Linked DNA regions of Homo sapiens: regions 2 and 3 are each linked to region 1. The links come from fine-mapping of genetic effects on gene expression. A gene starts in region 1. Each other region holds a variant in brackets. All regions are shown on one strand. Distances are between the middles of the regions.

Region 1 (8,497 bases):
AGGTATGAGTTTTCTAAATCCCCAAGGGACGCCAGCTGTCTCCACCCACCCCAGGGGTGAGGACTGAAGGATTTCTTAAGACTGTGCCTCAGACTGGGGTGAAGGTGAAGCTAGACAAGCCCAGGACCACAATGACATTTGAATCTACATTGGGATTCCCTTGGTTAGCTAAATGCAAGAAAAAAAATTCAAAATTCAGATCATAGCTCCTACTCTCAAACACAGTTTATTTATAGGTAGCTCTAATGTATTCAGAAGGAGCAAAAAAGGATACAATGCTTTAGGTATTATTCTGGAATGTTAATTTTTTTTTAAGTGACACACATCAAACCAATGGGGTAGAGACAATACAACCACCTCAGGATCCAGCTGTCTCCTCTCTGAGCATTAGCTCATCTACCCCCTCTTCCTGCCACGCTCCTGAGGCAAAGGTTTTGTAATCAAAAACCACTACCTTCAAACTATCAAGCCAAAGGCGAACAAGGTTCCTTTCCTCCTGCCTTCCCTCCCTTCCCACCATGAACCTGTCAGTCTCTTCTAGCTATAAAATGTTCATGCCCCTGTTTAAAATAATAATAATAGTAATAAACTTCCAAGAAAATGAAAGCTGGAGCAAAATGCCCTGCCAGTTAACCATCTTGGGAAAAGGTCAAAATAACCTTCCCTGGAACGCCCTTATCTTCTGGCCACAGAAAGCTGCCAAAGCCTTCCCTGCTATGTACAGAAGTAAAATCCCCTCACTGGCATCCTTCTTACACTGTCCATTTCCTCCTCTCTTCTCTGCAGGCTCTGTCTTTCCTGGCCACAGGCTGGAAAATGCACTGGTGGTAGCATGATACAACATTTATGTAAATTTCCATAGTTAAATGTTTCCTTTACCTAAAACTTACAAAATACCTTTTGAAAAATTAAAACTTTTAAGTCATAAAAATGACGTAAATCCCCACTACATAATCCTCTCATTTATATTCTTTCCCGTGTCTCAAAATTCATCAGATCTCAAGCATTTGGCAAAGCTGCAGACATACAAACCAAGCATGAAACATGAGCTATGCCTTCATCTACCTGAGCTGTCGGCAGACATTGTTACTTTGACAGAATATTTAAGAAAAGAAGTCACCAAAAACTTACCACAGCCTAATACTGGCAATGGGGGGTCTTAAAGATCAGTTCTCATAGAACCACTAACAAGCACGGGTGCAGTGTGGCAAAGGCAGCCACTGTGTTTCACAAGGTCATCAGCCACAGCTGTCAGAATAAGCACGAAGGCAACTCATACCACGGCGCAAATGAAGAATACATTCTAGACTAACAGTACGTGAGCCAGGGCCACAGAGGCTCCAGGGCCCAAGTGTGGAGAAATAATAAATCACTATTTACGCAATGAACTACATGTGGCCAAACTTGTGCTCTTTGTCCCTGCCTTCAAGAAGGGGCCAACCATCCCCAGTAACATGGACTCACCGATAGGCCACCTTGAGTCTTCCTAAGTGACAAGCATTTATTCCAAAGAACAAGGAGCAGCACCAAGACAAATGAACAAACAAGAGCTCAAGTTTGTGACTTGTTTTCCAGACTGCTCAATTCTCATTAAACATGCAAGCAGTAGTGCTGTGTTCGGCTGTAAGTGACGCTCTGCATATGCCTGGCTAGCTCCTCCACACGCATTTGTGGAGGAGCTAGCCAGGCATATGCGGAGACTTGCCATGTAACCTGCAGCAAGTTACTCACCTCCACCTCCCTATGTTCTTCTGCACTTCCTCAAAGTGAAAGTTCATTTATTAGGTAAGGAACAAGAATTGAATCCAAGTTTGCATTCACTGTGCCAGGCATTTAAAGCTGCCACTCACATGTTGTGGAATGAACTGTATGGTCTCTTACAGCCATAAAACATCCAAGTCTCTAGGATTATGCTGTTAGGTTCCAAAGAATATAGTGTACAGTAGTCATGAGAAATATCATGACTTTCTGAGATTATACACACATATGCATATATATGTATGTGTGTATATATATCTCTCTCTTCTCATATAGACATAAATCGGTATCAGAAGGTATATACGATACACAGTGTGTGCATATTTATGTATCTATCCCCTTCCTTTATCTACCTCTAAGCTAGGAGAGGCATCAGGCTGAAGAAGTCAAAGTATAACTACTAAAATGAGATAATATAGAAGAGAAAATATTTTTAAAGAATTAAAAATATAAAGCTATATAAATGCAAAAATATAACTAATGCTTAAGAATTATTAGACTAGTTGGCGGAAAAATTTCTTCTGAAGAGGGAGTAGAGTAATGCTATTGTTATTTTAAACCTCACCAAAAAAAAGTGAACTATACATAATCTCCTATACCAAGCAAAACACTGCAAAAGCTACAGGTGACCAGAATTATATAACGCCTTTTGAGAATGTACAAGCGTTTTCAGGTACATACATTTCATTAATTTCTAGAATGTTTTTAAGAGTTGCCAGACCAAGGCCCTGAAATTTTCAAATATAAAAATCCTATCTTGGAAGGCGGGGACTCTTACAGAGCTGGGGCCTAGTTTAGAATAGCATTATCTTAGATAAGAGCCCAGCCTCCCTCCAAGCCGTAACAGGAAATGCTTCATAAAGAAGTCTGCATCCTTAGTCCCAGACCTCCGCAGTTAGTATTTGGATTCTAGCCTTTATAAATGGACTTCTCAAAGGTGCATCCAACATCTGAGTATTCTGGCAGCAGTAACGTAAAAGGACTGACAAGGAAGGCTGCAGAGAGGTGTCAGACACGAAAACGCTTGAAGACATAAAAATGAGGAGTCTTAAGCACCTAAGAACTGCAATTCCCTATCTGAGCAGCAGGTAAGATTCTGGGGTATCAGATCACTGTATCCAGTTCCAGGTTCTCCACTGGCAGAGAGTGCAGTCTCTGACTTTGTCCTCTGAATGCAGGAACTTTATCGAAGCTAAAGTACCTGCTTTGGACACTTCTGGCACAGGTGTTGGGGTGACAGGAAACATCATCAATTCAGCTGCCAACTACAGCGGAAAAAAACTAGGGAATAATCCTCAGAAAATGGCACTGTTAATGGGTACAAAAAACACAGATAATAGGAATAAGCTCTAGTGTTCAGTAGCACAATAGCGTGACTATAGTTAACAATAATTTATTGTATATTTCAAAATAACTACAAAAATGAATTTGGAACAAAGAAATAAATGATAAATGTTTCAGGTAATGGATATTCCAATTACCCTGATTTGATCACTACACTGTATGCTTGAATCAAAATATCACGTCTCCTATAAATATGTACAACTATTATGTGCCCATAAAAACTAAAAACAAAAAAGAAAGAAAATGACACTTAAATATTAAAATACCTTTTATCCCCGAATCCCACATTTCAGTTTGGTCTTCTGAAAAAATGACTTATCAGTTTCTCAGCTAAAGAAATGATATCGACAGTGTACTACCTAAATTATACCTTATATTCTTTCCTTTCCAAAATATAAATTCGCCAGTGAACAATCTGATCCTAAAGAGGGCGGAAGATTAACCCGCCTAGCATGAGAGCACAGCTTAAAATAAATGCTGTTAAGTAGTCCTCAGGTAGAACAACTTTCCCAGCCAGCAGGCCCAGGAACTCAAGGTCTAGCTTAAGTTGGGTATTTGTATTCAAGAAGGAATTACAATCATGGAGTCAAATGACTTTTTCAATGCAGACGACAAAACGTAATCAAGTCAGTAGACACTTTACTAAGAGGAGGCTAAGCAAATGGTTATTTGCTTAAGGTTAGGGAACTCTTAAGCCCAAGGACCTGAGAGCCTGGGAAGGCGGGGGGGAATGGGTTTGACTCCCAAAGTTTGCGTTTCCGCAAGTGGTTAACACAACTCTAGGAACAAACCCTAAGACCAATACTCCCCACAATCTCATTTCCCCCCATTCTGCATCACCCATCACCCCAAAATAAAAACAGCTACTACAGCACAGCCCTTTGGTTACGCAGGAGGCTGGGACCTGATCCTGGCATAAAAAGCGGATGCGGGCGACCGAGGACCACACACGTGGGGGCGTTCGCGGGCGCTGAAACCAGCTACGAGGCCCACGCCCCCGCCGGGGACAGCTGGTGACCATCACCTTTGGACAGGGGCATTCCCCAGCCGGCCCCGGAACTTGCGAAAGACGCGCAGCCCTTCGGACTCAGCCACTCGCGCAGGGCCCGGGTCCCGGGCGGCTCGGGGCACCTGAGGAGCGCGGCGAAGGCGGGGACAGGGACGGGGACGGGGACGACTCGGGAACAGGGAAGCGCGCGGCCTCCCGCAGGACCCACCTGGATCTGCAACGGCACGAGGCGCACCTTGCAGCGCTCGCTCACCGCGAAGCCCTTGGGCAAGTCCACGTACTGGCCCCACTCCTCGGCGAACAGCTGCACCACGAATTTGCGGTGCATGTCGATCTGGTCGCCGTACAGGCTGAGGAACTTCTGGATGAGCAGCTCGTAGCCCGCCCCGTGTGGCACCGACGAGGGTCGCGCGAAGACTGAGAAACAGAAGAGCACCGGGACTGTGCCCGACGGCGCCCCCGCGCCCCCGGCGCCGCTGTTGGGGAGCGCAAGGACCGCCGGCTCCGCAGCCGCCATGTTCCCCCGAGCGTCTGCGAGCTCCGAGGCCGCCCAGTCGCACCCAGCCGGCTGCCGCGGCCCCGCCTCCCGGCGATGCCAGCCCGCCCGCCAGCTCGCGGAGGCGAAGGGGCGTGTCCTGACGACCGCTGCTCGCGCGCTCTCTTACCCGCCCCGGAGGGCGGGCCGCGGCGTAAGGGTGGGTGGTGGGGCCGGGGTGCGCGCGTGAGCCAGGGAGCGCCTGCGCTCGCCGGCCGGGTCCGCCCCCTCCAGCTTCCCGGGCCGCTGCGTTCCCGCAGTTCCCCGCTCGCGCCCTTTCTGCCGCGGTTCTGACTGCCGGCAGAACGCCTAGTGGTCTCGCAGACCCAAGACCCGCCTGGGCTGCCCGTTGTTCTTGCCCCGGTGCTGCAGCTCACACAAGGGTTTGTACCACCCTTCCCCTAACGCTGGCCCTCTTCGCGGCTTCGCTCGCCTTCGAATGAGCAGTGTTCTTGGCAGTCTAGGGTTGTGGTTGGGTACACAGAGCCGCCAGGACGAGTTACCTGTTGGCTCTGTGCAGAAGCATGCAGTCCTCCTCGAGATGGCAGTGGTATCTTACAACCAAAGGGACAGTCCGATAGATACCCTAAGAAGAGCAGCAGAATTTAATCCTTAGAGGGCCAGTCAAGGTTCAAGTTTTGTCTTTTTTCGGTCCCACAGAACACAATATCTCTAGGAATGGATTTGATATCTGGCCTCCCTTCATCTCAACCTATTTCTGGGAGGACTTGGATTTGGGAATATAAATACTATTAAAAGCAAAAATCTGAACTTTATATTGAAACTAAGGATATCTGTTTTTAAGTAAGTAAAAGGGATCACTTTCAAATAAAACAATCCTCTGCCTTCTGCACACTGTAAGGCGCTATAATTAACTGGAATTAGAAAGCATGCATTATGAACAGAATTTCCTTGGAATTGAGTCCTGCGAAGATAGGCATGGGCCTAAACATAAAATTAGATTTTAGGTATTAAAGCTGTCCTCTTCTAAGAAAATAACCTTTAAAGCAGGGTTTCCCAACTGACACTGTTGACTTCTGGAATGGACATTTCTCTTTCTTGGGGATGGGGCATCTTGTGCATTTGCAGGATATTTAGCAGCATCACCGGCTTCTACTCCCGCTAGATGCCTAGTGACCGCTCCTCCCTCTAGTTATGGCAATCAAAAATGTTTCCAGACATTGCCAAATATTCCCCAGAGGGCAAATATACCCCCTACTTGAGAACCACACTGCTTTAAAGTTATGAAAAGACCATCCTTTGGTGTTTCTTGCTCAATTGTACCGAAGCTACTAGAAATAGCCATTTTTTTCTGGTTCTCATCACACTTTGAGAGATCCCATTTAAAAGTGTTGTCTGAACCCGTCAGACCCAAAATGATATTTTTTTCCGGATACCACTCCATTGCAAGGTCTTCTATATGCAGATATGCTGATTTGTGCTAATAAGTGTACCCCCTCAAGACCTGATTACCAAAAGGTACCTACCTATTTTGGGTGGACTAATAAAAGTGTTCCTTCCACCCTGTAAAGCCTCCTAACACAGAGTAGGTTGGAGATTAGAGATTGGCCTAGACTTCAGACATCCTCAGCGAGGACCTTGGCATCTACACAGTCTTCTGCCGTGGCCCTCATGGCCGTGAGTCAACATACTTCATTTCCCTTTCATGTTTTTAAATTAGGTTTCTGACCCTTCAGTAAGGAAATCAACTTCCATATATATTGTGCTGTCTGAGATTGGTCCTTGACAACCTAGTTTAATGGTGCAATCATTGTGGTAATAGCATGTTAAATAACATTAATAAAATAGATATTTGATGGGCACATTTACCATTTATTGAATATCAACTGTGTATCAACCTCTGCATCACTGGGCTGCAAAAGGGAGGTGAATGCACATTTCAGTGATAAATTATTATCCTCAGAAATACAATTATTAAGATAATTTTTATAAATGTTACCAGAAAAAGTGAGTAAGACCCCATAAATGAATATTCAAATGACAAGTAGAAAATAACTGTTCTAATTGACAAGATCATATTATGGACCAAATGCCCAAAATTTTCTCATATAGGACTCTCAGTAGCTTTATTAGTTAATGTTAAATGCTTACTTTTAGAATCTAAATTCCAAGAAAATCAAGAAGGTATATTACACAGTATTGATTAATACATTAATATGCTACAGAAACAAACCCCAAAATCTCAATAGACTGATAAAACAAAGGCTTATTTCTCACCTTTCCCAGTTAACAGCAACATTTGACAAACCAATTACTCCCTTTATTTTGAACCATATTCACTTTGTCTTTGGGATACCACTCTCTCTTATTTCTCCTTCCACCTCACTTCAAGCTCGTTTCCTATGTTCCTCTCATTCCCCAAACCTCTATAAATACAAGTATACCAGAGCTCAGTCCTCACATCTATTATCCTAAGACTGTGGCTTTAAATATCACCCATATACCTTTGACTTCCAAATTTTTAACATCCAGGCCCTCACTCTGCACTCCATACTCATACACAAGTGCCTATTCGACATCTCCACTTGGATATTCAATAGATACCTCACATTTAAATGTACTAACAGAACTCTTAGTTTTCTTCTGTCCTCGAATATTTTCTCTCCCCTGTTGATATCTAGGCAAATGGCAACCCCGTTTTAGTAACTGAGTACAATAACCAGGGGTTTATCCTTTAATTTACTCCTCTTTCTGTCCTTGTCCAGTCTATCAGCAAGACCTGGTGGTCAGAACCAAATTCCTCTCATTCACACCAGTGCCACCACCTAAGACAAAACCACTGTCGTCTTCCATCTAACTGTAACTCATCATAAGTTGTGCCCAATATTTGACTTTTGTATCCCTATTTATCCATTTACCTCATTTACATAGACTTTTATACTCCATTTACCACACGGCTATTAGAGTGGCACTTTTTCAAAAACATAAATTTAGAGCGTGTCACTGCTGTGTTCAGAATCCTCCAGTATATAAAAATAGACCTCAAGACAATCTAGATGTTAGGATTAAGAGAAAAAGAACTTTAAAGAAGTTGTTACAAGTATATTCAAGGTCTTAAAAGAAAGGGTAGCCATAAGACTGAGCAGATAGGGAATACCAGCAGGGAGATGGAGATGACTGAAAACATAGCCAAATGTCACTTTTCAAGCTAAAAGTGCAATGTCTGGAGTGAAATGCTCACTGGGTAATCTAAACTTCAGATTATAGGTTCCAGAAGAAATGATTAGTGAAATTGCATGCAGAGTACTAGAAATTATCCAATGTGAAGAACAGGAAGAGATTGAAAAAAGTATGATGACAGTTTTAGTAACCTGGAGGGCAATATCAAATGATCTAATATGTAGTTGGAGTCCAAGAGGGAGAGATGAGACAAGAATGGAACAGAAAGAATATTGGAAGAAATAATAGCCAAAATAGCACTGTCTATTAAGTCTTCAGTGTGCTGATTTTTATCTCAGAGTCTGCTTTCCAGGGAAATCAACCTGTGACATTTGTTGCTAGGAAAGATGAAAGGAGGCCAATGTGGATGGATTTTGGAGCTGGGTCACCCACTGTTGGGCAGATAATGAATACCTAACCACTAATATCTGTGGAGCACAGATAGCCCCTGGCAGTTTTTTTAAACTTCCAGCAAGATGAACTAGAATCATATACTACTGGAAAGGAATGCCTTCACTGTAATTAAGAATTTGAAAAATATGGAGGAAATACTAATTATAAGAATAAAGGAATTGAATGACAGTTTCAAAGTTTGATTGATGCTCTAGAAAAAGACCAAAAAAAAGATAGTTGGCAACTAAAAGCTAAGTGTGAAGGCTGGAAGAACTTTT
Region 2 (8,497 bases), 170 kb after region 1:
CATTCATTTATTTAACGAATATATTCAGTACCTATTGTATACCAGATACTAATGGATTCTAGGGATACAGCGTGAAATATCACAGTCCCCTCTTTCAGAAAGGGAGGTGGACATGGCGCTATCCGTATGATAGTTTATATAATGAAGGAATGAACAAAGTGTATTGAGCAGCTAAAGAAAAGAATTCTTGAGTTTCTTGGAAAAGTCAGATAAATTTTTCTAAAGGAAGTGACATTTGAAATGAACTTTTTAAATCAAAGAGTAAAGGTGAGCCAGGCTTAGGAGTTTCATGTGGGTTTCACCTGGGCTTGGTGTGGTACAGCAATGTAACTTGGTCTATTTGCATTTTATTTTAACCATCTACCACCAAAGATTATGGTGGAAATTAAATGAAATGATAAAGAACACTGCATGCACATCATAAGCTTCTAGTAAATATGATATATTCTTGCTTTCTGTGCTGTTTTAATACAAGATATTTACTCATTCTAGGCATTAGGGTGACATAATCTAGCTCAGGACTCACAGATGAAGAAAAGCAGAGCCAGTAAGGCTGGTCAGCCACAGCCACCCAGGTAATTAATCACCTGAAATCATTCCCAAGGTTAACTTCTGACTCTTCCAAAAATTAATTCACTTCACTTTTCATTTTTTTTTTACTCTAAACATGTGAATATTTCAAGGTTACCATGCCTAAATAAGGTAGCACTTAGAAATTTATAAAAAAATGAGTAACATATTAAAAATCTTCACATTGTTTTGACTATGATAACCCTTCAAATTATTATTATTATTAGAGATAGGGTGTCTCTGTTACCTAGGCTGGAGTGCAGTGGTGTGATCACAGCTTACTGTAATGTTGAACTCCTGGGCTCAAGCGATCCTCCCACTTTAGCCTCCCAAGTAGCTAGGACTATGGCTGTGTGCCACCATGCCCAGCTAATTCAATAATTTTTAAATCAATTAGATAAAAGATTAAAACTGTCTCTTCTTATTTTAAAAATTATAAGTATTTTCCCCTTTCTTCTTGATAATGTAAATATTTGTGAGAATAAGTTTATCTGTCCCTTCTGGAAGCTAACTTTAGTAGCCATATTCTTAGGATGTTCACACAGGGATGAAATCACCCAACAACCCATTTCTCAGAATGACCCCCCATTGCTAAGTGACACATGACTCTGTTTGGCCCATGAACAAGAAATATTTTTTTCCAACACATTAATACTTCATTGGATAAACTAGATGATGCCCCAAAGATCCTGTCCCTTCATATCTCAGAATTCAGCAGATGTAGGCAGCCCAGCCTTAATCATGTTCAAATCCGAAATCACAGGCAATACCTGTTAATCATGTACTCATATTGTTTAAAATCTCTACTGCTTAAGAATTTATATGAATAACATCTGGGCCTTACATCTATTTCTCAATATCACACTGCAAGCAAAGAGAAGAAAAATTTCTAAAATTGTATTTTTAAATGAAAATTCATGAGCTTAATGCTGGCAAATATCACGTTTTCAAATTTTTCTAAGCATCAAAACTGCTATTTATATTCATATTCTATTTTTACTAATTGTATCTACATGCTCACTGGGTAAGGTAAATTAATCAGTCTAAATGAAATTATTTAGACTGATTTTTACTAGTCAGTAGTAAAAACATTTTTTTTTGCATTTTTGTTAACTGACTAGTATTTCATGCTTGTTTCATTCGATATTTCACAAGTGCTTATTTGCTACAAGAACACAGTTGTGCTCACTTAACTTCGAAGCAGTTATAAGGAATCATCACATTTACATGTGGGTGTTAATCCAGTACAGATTTGGGAAACTGGTGGCATTTTAAGTATGAGTTAAAGTTTTCAACATATCCTTATTGGATTTATATACCAAACATTTAGTCTGAAAACTCTTGTGCAATGAGGACAGTTGAAATGTCAAAACATAATATCCTAAAGAGGAAAACAATGGAATTTAATGGGCACTTTCCCCAACAAACCTACTTCTTTGCATTTGAGGACCCCTTGCTATGGCCTATTGATGAGAAGTTGTGCAGAAATTAAGGCACCAACTGGATGAATCAACTACGAAAATTTACACTGGCCATCTAGCTTGTTACTGGAAAGAATTAAACTAGATCTCACAGTCTATTAACAAATACTAAATAATCTTGATAATAATAATGATACTTATGCAGAAAAATACATGCTTCTTTACACTGGTCTTTAGATGACTGCAGATGGCATTAGACACATTTTTGCTTCATACACATTTCTTTTCTTGTACATACCCAGGACGGGCCCCCAGCATGTGAAACGGAGTGGCCATAATGAATTAGTTTTATTCCCCAATGATACAACTAGGGCTCCCTTCTCTTTCATTGCTTATGACTGCCTTCCCTTTTCTCCCTCACTGAATATTGGTCTTTTGTTGCCCGACCCTGACCCCAACCAGGATTTTTGACAGTAGAAGGGATATAATGAGGATCCTGTTGAAGAAAGGAAGGTGAAAAAATCCCAAGATAGATTCTTTCTCTACTTACTCTCTCACCAGCAAGCTGAATTATCAATTCTCCTATCAAACTTTCACCTCTCAATGTTCCCATCCTTTCCTTCACAGGCCTCTAATGAATATTTTTGCAAAGAATCTCTGAGATAGTGTTCTTTTGCATAAAGCAGAGGAAAAATCCCTAATGTTGAGTTAAACCTCAGGGAAATAGATTGCAAGTCATTGCAAACCAGAGAAACCAACTTACACAGTGGCAGATTTAAAAAGAAAGGGAACTACTAGAAAGGCTGGAGAATCAGACATGGGCAAGGTAAGGATAAAAGGAGGCTGGACACAATGATTACAGCTAAAACCACACCACCAAACACCATGTGGATGCAGATACTGTTATCCTTCTTGCTGGCTACGGGGTGCAACATGTGGCACCCAGGCCCATTCCACAATGAACAGTGTACTCTGTTGTACCACTACCCATGCAGCCAATGTTAATTTATGCTGCCAGAATGAATTCTTGCTCCAAACCAAGAAACTGAAAGGGTCACATGCTCATCCCTTATTTCTAGGGGCCAGAGAAATAGTGTGTCTGGACAGTGGCAATTTTGCAGTAGGAAACATACCCTTATCTCTCCAGTTTTCATGAGGTAGAGAAGTTTCCATAGTGAGGAGTTTCAAAGCCCTAAACGTCAAAATAAACTAAATGTCCAGTATAGTGTGACATTTTCGAGATGATTTGAAATTGTTTATGTTAGTTTTTAGACTTTTTTTTAAAGTTTTTTTTAATGTTTAAAGCACAGTTCTTCAAACTGTGAGGTATAATCTATAAAACAGTCATAAAATTGACTTAGTAAGCCATGATAACAAACATTTTTTAATAGAATGGAATAGAGTGTGCATATCACATAGTAGGATGAGTTTTGCCCTGTAAAACTTTTCTTTCACTTATGTCTATGTAGAGGTACATATTTATTTAATTATGGTGTCAAATGCTTTTATTGCTGCAGATCATGTAAAAAAAAATAGTTGAAAACCACTGCTCCAAAGGACTGTATACTTGATTCAGGAACTGGAGACTAGAGAAGAACTGTAGTTTCACAGGGCAGTGGCCTGGGAGAGGAGACAACCCATAGCCAGAAGAACAGGCCAGGATAGTAGAACTAGAAATATGTGGACCAATCTCCTGGCCCTGTAAGAAATGCAATTAGAAGCTGATGCAGAACCAAGAGCCCCTGGGGACTCCTTTTTTCTCTTCCTATTGTCCTTTACCCAAACCCCAGATGGATGGAACTCTTTGTCCATATCCCAGTAATTATTCCCAGTGACTGAAGAGAGTGTGTTGGAAGAGATTACAGCCGTGAGACGTAATTTGTCATCTCAAGTAAGAATCTGCTATGAATTTTCCTCTGAGAGAGCTTAGAGTACAATGTTGGAGTCAGTGTTATTATTGCCATATTTAGGCACACTGTGAGTTAGGTAGGCTACCTGTATAATAATGTTCAATTTCTAAACAACTGACTCATAATAATTTGGCAACTTCCTCTAATAGTTCTAAGTGGAAGTGGGGGTTGGTAAAAGCCATGTGGACAATAGAGGAAGTATCTTTTAGTATAAA[C/A]ATATGAACAGGCAGTAGAAGCCATGTGGAAATTGCTTTGTCATCTTTCTCATAGCGCAAAAATTCTTTTCAGATAGCTTATAACATTTAATTTGGCATTTGCACAAATTATAGTAATATAAGATATTTTTGATGTTGCCGTACTTTGTCATTACTCATTTTCAGGTCTCCCTAAACTGAGTTATAATTAATTTGAAGTTTTTGAAAGGAAGTCTCTCAAATATTTTTTGTGGGGGTAGATCTCATGATATTATCATTTTGATCTTCCTGTGTACCATGCCAGGGCATTTCTTCTTGCCAGGGGAGAATGCATTGAATTGTATAATTTATCCAATGATTAAACATTGTTGGCTGGGTGTGGTGGCTCACACCTGTAATCTCAGCACTTTGAGAGGCCAGGGCGGGTGGATTGCTTGACCTCAGGAGTTTGAGACCAGTCTGGGCAACATGGTAAAACCCTGTCTCTTCTAAAAATACAAAAATTAGCCGGGTGTGGTGGCGGGTGCCTATAATCCCAGCTTCTTGGGAGGCTGAGGCATGAGAATTGCTTGAACCCAGGAGGTTGAGACTGCAGTGAGCCAAGATTGCACCACTGCACTTCAGCCTAGGTGACAGAGCAAAACTCTGTCTCAAAAACAAAACAAAACAAAACAAAAACACTGTTTTATAATTCAGACTGGCTTGGTGTGGTTAACAGGACATGGAGCTAGAAGAAAATCATCCCCCAAAATATAGATATATATTTTTCTCACAGAGAACTATACTGTGAACTGCTAAGGAATGTGATTTATTTACTCCCTTGTACCCAAGCTGAATATAAAGCTTAACACATAACTGACATTCAACAAGCCATTCTTGAATTGATAGTCACATTTCTCTCTAACATTTACTGAGCACTTACTGTGAGCCTGTTACTGTTCTATGGTCTTACTGTACATCCTTTACTAATTTAATCTTCACAAAAACCCTGTGAGCTGGATCTTACTGCTGTATAAATTTTGCAGTTGAGGAAATGAGAAAGGTTAAATCATTGCTCAAAGTACACAGCTCATGAGAGGCCAAGCTGGGATCTTAACCTATAGAGTCTTGACTCGAGAGTCCACATCTTTGATTACTGAGTAAGACTGCCTGTTGTGACGGTTAAGTGTTAGTGGAAGGAAAGAGGACCACAAGGAATATTGCCAGAGGTTTTATAGGAATGACCAAAATGAGAATAAAGGTAAAATTATAAAATTTCCTAACAGTGTGCCATTTACTTTGCTCCGCCTGCCTTTAGTGAAAGCCTCCAGGGCTGTAGATTAGAATCTGTTTTAGTGGGATGGACCAGAATATCTCTGAATAATAGGGGCTTACATAAGTTAGAAGTTTATTTCATTATTGTGTAAAATAAGTCTGGAGGTAGAAAGTTCATTCCATGTTTTCATAAGAACACAATTTCTGTCTTTCTGCTCTATCAGACTAGGGCAAGTTTTCCGTCTTCGAGTCACCTCATGACCCAGGATAGTCTGTGAAACTCCAGCCATTATATCTGAGGGTGTGGGCCAAAAGACAGACAAAAGGCAGAATAGTGATGAAAAAAAAAAAAAAAAGATTTATCTCCTTTCTCTCTGCAAGTCAGCTACTTCTAAGTGACATTGACAGAAATCACACATAACACTTCCGTTGACATTTCTTTGGCCAGTGCTTAGTCACATGATTGCACTCAGCTTTAAGGGAGCCTGTGAAATGCAGTCTTTCTATTCACGCATCAATGAGCTCAGCTAAAAATCAGAATTCTGTTCCTAAAAAGGAAAGGGTAAATGGATATTCAGGTGGGCAACTAGAAGTTTCTGCCACACTGCCTGAATGATATGTCAACTATTCCATGAAATCTTTCTTTTAACTTCTAATGTGATATGATCTCTCCTTTCTTTGAATTCTACAGAATATTTTGTGTGCTTCTAATTGCAGTTTTTATTACCTACAATTACCTGTAAATACTCTTGCCTTATCCTTACAGTTGATGCTAAGATCTATGAAGCCAGTTACTATCACAGTTCTTGCATTCCATGCATTAAAAAGAATAGTCTTACACTGAGTAGATGCTCAATAAAAGTGAAATGGAATCTTTTTTTAGGTACCATTTAGGGAAAGAAAGGAATGATCATAAATGAAGTTCCTATGAAGACATAACATGTAGATTATTTCCAACATATCAGTTAGACTGTAGAGTTTTCAGCAAATTAGAATTATTTGAGCTCCTACTTTGTCATAAGTACAGTACTAAGTAATAGAGATAATTTTAGTACATCATACAGGCATGTTTGAATAACATAGAAAATGGGAATGATTAGCTATAATAATTATCATTATTATTTCCTTCAGAAAGTTTCTATGCAGAGTTTAACAAGTATATAGATACAGATGAACTACATGAGCAAATCCCCAGTATTATCTGAAATAGAAAAACCAAAATGTAAACAAGAGAGCATACCACAAGAATAATGGAGAAGCTTTTCTCAGAAACTGATTTTAAAAAAACCTAGAAATATTGGATTCCTTGATAATTATGAAGAAGACACCATATCTTATTTAGTAGCACATCTGATTATTGGGAGATGCATTCAGAAAGATCTTTAACCAATGGTGTTTCAAAGGAGCCAGGAAAGACAGAATGTTGATAGAAGGCAATATGGCTGAAGCTAGGAGCTCCAGGCAAAAGTGGTATTAAGAGACCTGGCACAGAAACAGAAAAGTATGGGCATGGTTGGTGAATATCAGGGCTTTTGCTGTAATCTAGAAGGGATCTAAAGTGGACATGTGGTGGGAGAGATGAAACCGAGATAAAGGATGTGTCCCCAAATTCCTAGGTTGAAGCTTAGTCTCCAGTGTGATGATATTTGGAGGTGAGGTCTTTGGCAAATAATTAAGTAATTGGGGTGGAGCCCTCACAAATGGGACTAGTGCCTTTATAAGAAGAAACATCAACATTGGTCCAGTCATTTCTGCAAAATGGAGCAAATTAATCATAATATTCACCTCATTCTCAAAACCTCTTCTCAAATGTAGCTCATCTTAGACTCCTGCCAAATTGAACCACTCATTGCTTTCTATAAGCTCTGTGCTATCCTCCTCCCACACTTTGGATGGTATGCCATCCCACCACCTGAACAAAAGTCTCCCTCTTATTCAAAACCTAGTTAAAAATATCCCTCTGTCTCGAAGCATCCCCTGACACTCCTAAATCCCAATAGTACTTGCTTCAGCACTGGCTATAGTACAGTGTAATCATTAAAGCATGGCATCTAACTGGAATCTTGCCCTGGTACAGACTGTGTGATCTGAAGTGAACTATTAATTTCTCTAAAAATGGAAAGAATACTACTGACCTCCCAGGGCTGAGCTAAGGATTACACAAGATAGGGCACTCAAAGTACCAGTACCTATAATACAATACGATGACTACAGTTAATACAATGTATTGTATATTTGAAAATCACTAAGAGAAGAGATTTTATGTGTTCTCATCACAAAGAAATAAGTATGTGTGGTAACGCATATGTTTGCTTGACTTAGTCATTCCACAATGTATACATATTTCAAAACATCATCTTATATGCCATAAATAAGTTCAATTTTTACTTATCAATTTTAATAAATACATTAATAAAAAGTACCAGTACCAAGAAATGGTCACTGTGTTAAATATTTATATCTTTGAATCTCCCATAGTTTTATGATAAATGTCTTATTAGTGACGAATACCTATTAGGTGGCCAACTCTGCCTGGCACCACTGTTGGTCCTAAAGATACAGCTGTGAATAACAAGGGCAATTCTTTGCTTGTATACATTACTTTTCAGTGTTAAGACAATAAAGTACATAAATACTTTTTAAAAAAATAAAATTTGGATTGGTTTTATGTAGAATATTAAAATTAAGTCATGTTAAAGAGGGATTGGGTAGCTACTTTCTATGGGTGGTTATGGAAGTTTCTCCTAAGATGGGACATTCTAGCTCTGACCACAATCTTTTCACCACTACCCAACAAAACAGGACATAATAGTATAACTTTTCTTACAAAAGAAATTATTATAATATATGGTTCTTTATGTCTGTTTTCTCTCACTAAGCATGTTTTCAAGGTTCATAATGTTGCAACATGTAGAAGTATTTCATTTCTTTTTATTGTGGAGTAATATGCCATTATATCGATATTACCACATTTTATTAGTTGATGGACATTTAAGTTGTTTCCACTTTTGGGTTATTATAGATGCTGCTGCTATGAACAATCACTTAGAAATGTTTGTGTGGACATGTTTTTATTTTTCTTGGGTATATACCTAGGAGTAGAATTGCTAGATCATGTGGTAACTCTATGTTTAACGTTTTGAAGAAG
Region 3 (8,497 bases), 280 kb after region 1:
TACAAGTGAACAGCTGGTGTATAACATAACACACATCAGGCAATATATTATTTTACTTATAAGTCAAAGTACTACTTTACTTAGTAAATAAAAGTACTATTTTAGTTACGAATCAATAAGGAAAAGCCAACACCTGTTCAAGATGGATTAAAGACTTAAACGTTAGACCTAAAACCATAAAAACCCTAGAAGAAAACCTAGGCAATACCATTCAGGACATAGGCATGGGCAAGGACTTCATGTCTAAAACACCAAAAGCAATGGCAACAAAAGCCAAAATTGACAAATGGGATCTAATTAAACTAAAGAGCTTCTGTACAGCAAAAGAAACTACCATCAGAGTGAACAGGCAACCTACAGAATGGGAGAAAATTTTTGCAACCTACTCATCTGACAAACGGCTAATATCCAGAATCTACAATGAACTCAAACAAATTTACAAGAAAAAAACAAACAACCCCATCAAAAAGTGGGCAAAGGACATGAACAGACACTTCTCAAAAGAAGACATTTATGCAGCCAAAAAACACATGAAAAAATGCTCATCATCACTGGCCATCAGAGAAATGCAAATCAAAACCACAATGAGATACCATCTCACACCAGTTAGAATGGCAATCATTAAAAAGTCAGGAAACAACAGGTGCTGGAGAGGATGTGGAGAAATAGGAACACTTTTACACTGTTGGTGGGACTGTAAACTAGTTCAACCATTGTGGAAGTCAGTGTGGCGATTCCTCAGGGATCTAGAACTAGAAATACCATTTGACCCAGCCGTCCCATTACTGGGTATATACCCAAAGGACTATAAATCATGCTGCTATAAAGACACAGGCACACGTATGTTTATTGCGGCACTATTCACAATAGCAAAGACTTGGAACCAACCCAAATGTCCAACAATCATAGACTGGATTAAGAAAATGTGGCACGTATACACCATGGAATACTATGCAGCCATAAAAAATGATGAGTTCATGTCCTTTGTAGGGACATGGATGAAATTGGAAATCATCATTCTCAGTAAACTATTGCAAGAACAAAAAACCAAACACCGCATATTCTCACTCATAGGTGGGAACTGAACAATGAGATCACATGGACACAGCAAGGGGAACATCACACTCTGGGGACTGTTGTGGGGTCGGGGGAGGGGGGAGGGATAGCATTGGGAGATATACCTAATGCTAGATGACGAGTTAGTGGGTGCAGCGCACCAGTGTGGCACATGTATACATATGTAACTAACCTGCACAATGTGCACATGTACCCTAAAACTTAAAGTATAATAATAAAAGAAAAAAAAAAAAAGAAAAACAAATTGAGTACTCAATAAATAGTTAATTATAATGGCTTATAATCATATTAAAAGATGCTCACTTTCACATAGTCAAATATATAACAAATGAAATCCAAATGATATGTATTTTTTTCACTTTGATTGCAAACATTTCACACTCTTGTTGATATATAATTTACATATCATTCAATTCACCCACATAAAGTATACAATTCATTGTTTTAATATATTCAGAGTTCTGAAACAATTTGAAAACATTTTCATCACCCCACAAAAGTGATAATGCTACCGATTAGCATCATGTGCCATTTCCCCCATTCCCAAACATTAATCTTCTTTCTGCCTCAGTGAATTTTCCTATTCTCGATATTTCATATAAATGAAATCACATTCATTTAATGTTCACAAAATGGTTTTTCATGACCAGCTTCTTTCACTTAGCCTAATCTTTTCAAGGCTCATCCATTTTGTAGTACATATCAGTATTTTATTGTTTTTTATTGCCAAATAATGTTCCACTTTATTGATCCATTCATCAGTTTATGAATATTTAGGTTGTTTCCATTTTTGGGTATTATGAACGTGATGCTATGAACATTCATGCCCATATTTATATGTTAGGTATTTACCTTGGAGTGGAATCACTGGCATATTTAACATTTGAAGAACTGCCAAACTGTTTTCCAAAACATCTGTAACAGTTTTCATTCCCACCAGCAATATATAAGGGTTTCAGTTTTTCCATATACCAACCAACACTACTTACTGTCTAAGTAAGTCAAGAGTACAGACTCTAGGCCTAGATTCTCTTTTTTATTGTAATTATTCTGCAAAATATCTGTTCAAATCTATTGCCATTTTTTAAATTGGGTTGCTTGTCTTGTTGTTGTTAAGTGCAAACAGCTCTTTATATATTCTTGAAACAAGTCCCTTGTTAGATAATAATTTTCAAACATTCTCTTCTTTTCTGTGAGTTGTCTTTCCATTTTCTTGATGATGTCCATTGAAGCACACAAGTTTTTAATTTTGATCAAGTCCAATTTATTTATTTTTGTTTCATTACTTGTACTTCTGTGTCTAAGAAGGCTTTCCTAACCCAAACTTATGAAGATTTACTCCTATATTTTCTTTTGAGAGTTTTATAGTTTTAGCTATAATCTATTTTGATTTAATTCTTCAAAGATTGAAGGAAGAAGTCCACTTCCTTCTTTTGCATGTGAATACCACTTGCTCCAGTACCATTTGCTAAAAAGACAATTTTTATCATTTGAATTGCCTTGGTTCTTTTCTAGACATAGACAATTCTAGATATAGGGTACCAATTGGGCATACTTCTAGACTCTAAATTAAATTATATTGGTATATATATATATATATATATATATATACACACATATATATATATACACATATATATATATACACATATATATATATACACACACACACACATATATATATATATATATACACACACATATATATAGTCAGTACCATGCTGCCTTTATTACTATAGTTTATAGTTAGTTTTAAATTCAGGGAATGTGAGTTATCCAAGTTTGTTCTTCTTTTTAAGGATTTATTGGGCTACTCTTGGCCCTTGTATTTACATATAAATTTTAGGACCAGATTGTGAATTTCTACAAAGAATCCAGCTGAAATTTTGAGAGGAATTGTTCTGAATCTGTAGATAATTTTTGGAGTCTTTTTATCTAACAATATTGAGTTATCTGATCAATTAACATTTGATGTCTTTCTGTTTATTTAGGTCTCCTTTAATTTTTTAAACAATGTTCTGTAGTGTTCAGTTTATAAATCACACACTTCCTTGATTAAATATATTCCTAAATAGTTTATTCCTTTTGATGCCATTGTAAATTGAATTATTTTCTTAATTTCATTTTTTTGTATTTTTATTGCTAATATAGAGAAATGCAACTGATTTTTGTGTATTAATCTTGTATCCTAAAATTTCGTTGAATTCATTTTTTAGGTTTAATAGTTTTTAATGAGTTTTTTTAGTATTTTCTATATATAAGACCATGTAATGCATAAATACAGACAGTTTTACTTCTTCCTTTCCAACCTTTCCAATCTAGATGCTCTTTATTTCTTTTTCTTGCCTTATTTCCTTGGCTAGAATCTCCAGTACAGTGTTGGATAGAAGTGATGAGAATGGACATTCTTATTTTGTTTTTGATCTCAGAGAAAAGATTTTCTCAGTCTCTCACCATTAAAAATGATGTTAGTACTGGGATTTTTACAGATGCATTTTATTAGGTTGAGAAAGTTTTCTTGTATTTTAAGTCTGTTGAGTATATTTATTATAAAGGGTGTTGGTTTTTTTAAAATGTTTTTCCTGTGGCTATTAAGATTACCCTGTGTCTTCTGTTTTTCATCTTATTGATATACTATATTACATTAATTGATTTTAAGATTTAAACCAACCTTGTATTTCTCAGCTACATCCCACTTGTTAATTGTATATAATGCTTTTTAAATGGTGCCTGGTGGGTTTGATAGGTTTTCCTATTCTGGATATTTCATATAAATAGAATCACATTCGTATAAGTGGTCACAAAATTTCTTTTGTGTTTTCAAGGTTCATTCATTTTATATTTGGTTTGCTAGCATTTTGTTGAGGATTTTTGCAATTATAATTACAAGAAACATTTGTCTTTTGTTTTCTTTTTTTGTGATGTCTGTCCAATTTTGATATTAGGGTAATACTGTTTTCATAGATTGAATTGGGAGGTTTTCTCTCATCTTTTGTATTGTAGGAATAATTTATTCACAATTGTTAATTATTCTGTAAATGTTTGTTAAAATTCACCAGTGAAGTCATCTGGGTCTGGGATTTTCTTTGGGGGAAGCTTTTAAGTTATTAATTTAATTTATTTACTTGTTGTTGGTTATTTCCAATTTTCTATTTCTTTTTGAGTCAGTTTTGATAATTTGTGTCTTTCTGGCAATTTGTCCATTTCATCTAAGTTATCTAAGTTTTCAGCGTACAAAGTGTTCATAGAATTCTCTTATAATTTTTTGAAAATTTTCTGTAAGGTTGGTAGTAATGTTCCCTCTAAAGATTAAAACATTTTTAGTATACAATGTTGACATGAATGTAGAGAAAGTCTTGCACACACTTTGGTAGGGACTGTGAATTGTAAATTGATGAAACCTTTTCCAAGGAAGAGATTTAGCAGTTAGATT[C/G]AACAGAACATGGTGGCAAATTAGATGGGGGTGGTAAGATGCAATTAATGACAGCCTGGAGTATTTTAGCCTCAGTGATAAGAAGACGGCTGTTTCACACACAAATAAAATGAAAATAGGGGGAAAATCAGTTTTAAAAAGAAACTAATACATTTAATTATCAATTTTTATGTTGGATTGTTAGATGAGTTGTAGAGGTAGAAATGCAATCAGCCAATCAGAAATTCAGAATTACTATTTAGAAGAGAATAATTTGGAGATCTGTGTTGAAACAACAGCTTTTTGAACCTCCATGGTCAGATGAAGGTATTTTTATTTTTATTTTCAGAACTAAGTATAAGAGACAGAAAAACAAAATACGGCAGAACTTAGAAGCATACCTACAATTATGGAGCAGAAAAAGAGAAAGAAATTATCACAAGCTGAGCTGGAACATTTATAGGGGTAGAGGGAGAACTAAGAATAACATTGCACAAACCAAATAGAAACTGTAAAGGAGAAAAGGAATAAGAATATCAATTATTCTATGAGATCAAGTATGGTAATGACTGGGAAGATGTTACAGGGCCCAACAAATAGGACGTTAAGTTTGGCTTTTGAAGAAGTAGTTGATCTACCAAAAACTCATAAGAATTTTTTCCCAAAAGTTACTTATTTCAGATTGTATTAGTTACTAAAATTGATTTAGCAGAAATATGTTCAAGTGCTCAACTGTACAATTCTTTTGAGTCCTAACATATAATCATCCTTACATATCATAAATATAATTGCCATTAACCATATTTCTGTGCTGAAACAGAAATTCAATATTTTTGCACTAGATCAAGGAAATTGTTTATATACTTTGCCAAATATTTATATCTCATTTTATATGTTAGCTCACTGCTACCAAATATTGAAAAACCAAATGGATCCCTAAAACCAAGATGAAATGTTTCCGACTGAAAGATAATATTGGGGGCTGAAATTTATCTTGGCATAAGTTTTATCCTGTGAGTAGAGAGTACTAAAATCCGACCTTATTCTCTTGTGAAAAATTTTAAAAGGCTACATTATCCCCTAAATAGTAACTGTCTGGATGTCTGACCAGAATATATTCCATCTGGTCCTTGGTTTAGGCAAGTAGAGACATAATGTTAGAGACGTAATGCAAGTTGTAGCAAATTAGGAAAATTAAGCCACATAAAAATGTCATTATGAAACTGTTAGGACATTCTCAGAAAACTGTGACTCAGTGAAATATGATGTGGAAGCACTCTGCCCTAGGTGGTAAGGGAGCTATAGCTTCCTGTTCGGTAGGCTTACACACCAACGGGAGTCCTGCTGCCTAGACTCTTTCTGTCTCATGGAAGCCATCTGCCTCTCAGCGGACCTGAACACCTGAGTCTGCAAAGGCAAGGCCAGCTCCCTATGCAGCCCTTAGCCTGAGCAGGGCTTCCCTGCATTCCTGAAATTCGATCCTACTGATTGCTCTAAAGGGCTACAGATTTGGCTAATGGCACTAGTATTTGGAACGGAATGGGCCCTTGAAAGGTCTCAACTGTAAAACAAGTCCTGTGAATAAGGAGTTTAACTTTCACATTCCACTAAAGCTTCAAATATGTAACAGAAAAATAATTGTTTTCTTTTGCTCAAAATAAATGGCCATTTTCTTATTTTATATCTTTGTTGGAATTAGCAATATTTTCTATTTTTTCCTAAGATTAATCTGCACGTAAGTGATGATAACTAACCATGACTCTGATTCCAGCCTGACTTGGTGAAATTTTAGAAATGAATGTTGTAAGGGCAAAGGGCTGAAAAAGTTGTTATTTTTGTTTGTCTGTTTGTTTACCTACCCAGGCAATGCTTCTTGTAATGAAATACTTTTCTAAAAAAATTATGAACACACCAAAAACCTCAGGATAACCTCTCCTTCCACCTGCTCCCAGACCCAGAGAATCAGGATCTATCATAAGATAAAAACTGGATTAGTTAGCAAACCACAACACTGCAGTCGTACAAACTCTTTCACCTTTTAGCACAATCCACTTCTCCTACTTTTCACTAACCACCTTTCTTTATTCACTCAGAGAAAGCAATTCATGAGAGGAAGTTAGGCAAGGATCTGCGCAGAGCGACAACCGAGGGCACTGGCAGGGACTCACAACATCTTGTGAGTTTTGTGACATACTGCAGGACAGGGAAGAGGTCATTGTCCTCGGAAGTAGTGTGCTTTGGTGTGTTTTCATATGTTCCATGAGTTTACAGCATCAGATATCAGAAGACAAGGATAGGTGAAGATGCTATCTCTGCACAGATGAGGTACACCATGTGTATATCTACTAGAAAATGCCTCCTAATTGTGCAACCAAGAAAGAAATTCATCAATATCCCAAGACAATAAAGATTCCACATACTCTGACTTTTGAGGAAGTATGGCTCAATCATATACCTTATGGGAATAAATGGAGAAAATTAAAATGAGGACTGTGGAAAGAAAATTACCAATTAAGAGGAATGAAAAATTGCCCTTTTTCGCTAGATGCAGCAATGTCTACAGTTTTGAAGAGAACAATTTAGTATTCAACAATTTTATTCACAAATGGTCCTTCTTGTGTGAAGGTAGCATAAATACATCCTTGGGTATATTAGACCTTAGAAAATATGCCAAACGTGTGCTCTTCTTTTAAAAATCACTCATTAATAAAAGAGGAAGGAAGCAAAATTAAAAGATAAAAATGGGGAAAATCATGAAATAAATGGTCTGGCAACAAGCATTGAAATCAGCTCAATGTGGAGTTTATGCTAAACCATTATATATTTTGTTACAAGATAGCAAATAAATGCCAAAAATAATTCTTCAAAGACACTTAATAGAAAAAGAGCAACTTAACGCCAATAATTTGAATAAAATTCTGAAGCCTGACTTCAAAAACAAATTGACCAATAGAGAGCCAGTGTTGAAAATTAAGTTTACAATTGCAAAATATTTGAACATTAAGCCTTAACTTAATAATGTTGTCCTGCAATCAGAAACACCATAGTGGGGGAATGCATTATGGGGTGTGCAGTACCAAAGTGTTTGATAATGTGACCTCTTGTACTAGGCCTTGAGAAAGAGCTGATATAATCATATATGAAGGTGCTTTTTCCAATCTTTTAAAATAAAACACAAAAACAACATGTAAATTCTTTCTTTTTTTCCCAAACAACAGTAAGAATAATGTAGTTTCTGGTTAATATCTGAAGCATGATAATGAGAATACTGGTTACACACGGGGGCATCAGGAAGGAAATGAGGCACCATGGACTCACCATGTCGTATTGGAAATCACAGAGCAGAGGGGCACAGGCCCATTTTTCCACTCGAACTCTGAGAGGAATAGGCTACAATGTTTGCTTTCCTTGATCCTGGGGCAGCCATAGTATAACATAAATGTAATTTTGGCCTATGTTTAGGCAGAGAGAAGGCCTGAGAGACTGGTTCCAAGTTACACAGAAATTTGAAAGACTCCATACTGGAAGTAACTTTGCTTACTTTCTTTGGCTGGATTTTGATTGAATTGCTCTTAAAAATGGCAATTATAAAGTTTTCTTTTTGACACTTTGCTGATAGGTTTTTTTAGATATGTGGAAATGCTTTAGACATGTGGAAAAATTATAGCACAGGATTTTTTAGATATGTGGAAATGCTTGGCTCCCTAAAAGAAAAAAATGTACAGAAGTGTGTCAGTGGTCATAGTCAGATTCTTAACTTTCTATTTAATCTTATTATTGGGTAGTATATAAATAAGAACTACTAGTACCACTTATACAAAAGGAAATAAGTCTTTCCTTTTTTCTTTCTCAAAGTATGTTGGAATAAATAAATGGACATTTGGTTTGTGCATATCCATCCAAAGAAGGAATTTTGTGTCCCTTCTGTCTTTCTCTTGGGCTCCACTTCTACCCTAAGGCCAGGAAGCTTACGAGACTCTTTTCATTATTTCTGAAAAAAATTGTTCA

Alleles and levels. Alleles are on the strand shown, and positions count from the first base shown. SD is a standard deviation of normalised expression in the study named. Not every link is listed here.
With allele G in place of C in region 3, the expression in atrial appendage of the gene that starts at base 4,646 in region 1 is lower (small effect, 0.26 SD a copy in GTEx).

The links. PIP is the estimated chance that this variant, and not a neighbour inherited with it, causes the effect.
Region 2: its variant is the best candidate, but not a certain one, in a credible set for the expression of ISOC1 in whole blood (TOPMed, PIP 0.76).
Region 3: its variant is the best candidate, but not a certain one, in a credible set for the expression of ISOC1 in atrial appendage (GTEx, PIP 0.74).

The regions. Positions count from the first base shown.
Region 1 is chr5:129,090,898-129,099,394 of GRCh38, reverse strand. ISOC1 (isochorismatase domain containing 1) reads right to left here and starts at 4,646. Exons shown (of 5, transcript NM_016048.2): 1 at 4,320-4,646. The coding sequence starts at 4,628. It overlaps LOC124901060 (a long non-coding RNA gene), which reads left to right and starts at 2,616. Exons shown (of 2, transcript XR_007058926.1): 1 at 2,616-2,846; 2 at 3,996-6,469. It overlaps MIR4633 (microRNA 4633), which reads right to left and starts at 1,707; the gene lies at 1,629-1,707. RefSeq lists a silencer at 4,249-5,028.
Region 2 is chr5:128,923,402-128,931,898 of GRCh38, reverse strand. The region is part of intron 6 of LOC105379168 (a long non-coding RNA gene); the gene reads right to left. Among named protein-coding and RNA genes, the nearest start is that of SLC27A6, 38 kb to the left of the region's middle. RefSeq lists a silencer at 5,686-5,886. The variant C/A (reference allele first, on the strand shown) is at 4,117.
Region 3 is chr5:128,812,835-128,821,331 of GRCh38, reverse strand. The region is part of intron 4 of LOC105379168 (a long non-coding RNA gene); the gene reads right to left. Among named protein-coding and RNA genes, the nearest start is that of SLC27A6, 150 kb to the left of the region's middle. The variant C/G (reference allele first, on the strand shown) is at 4,511.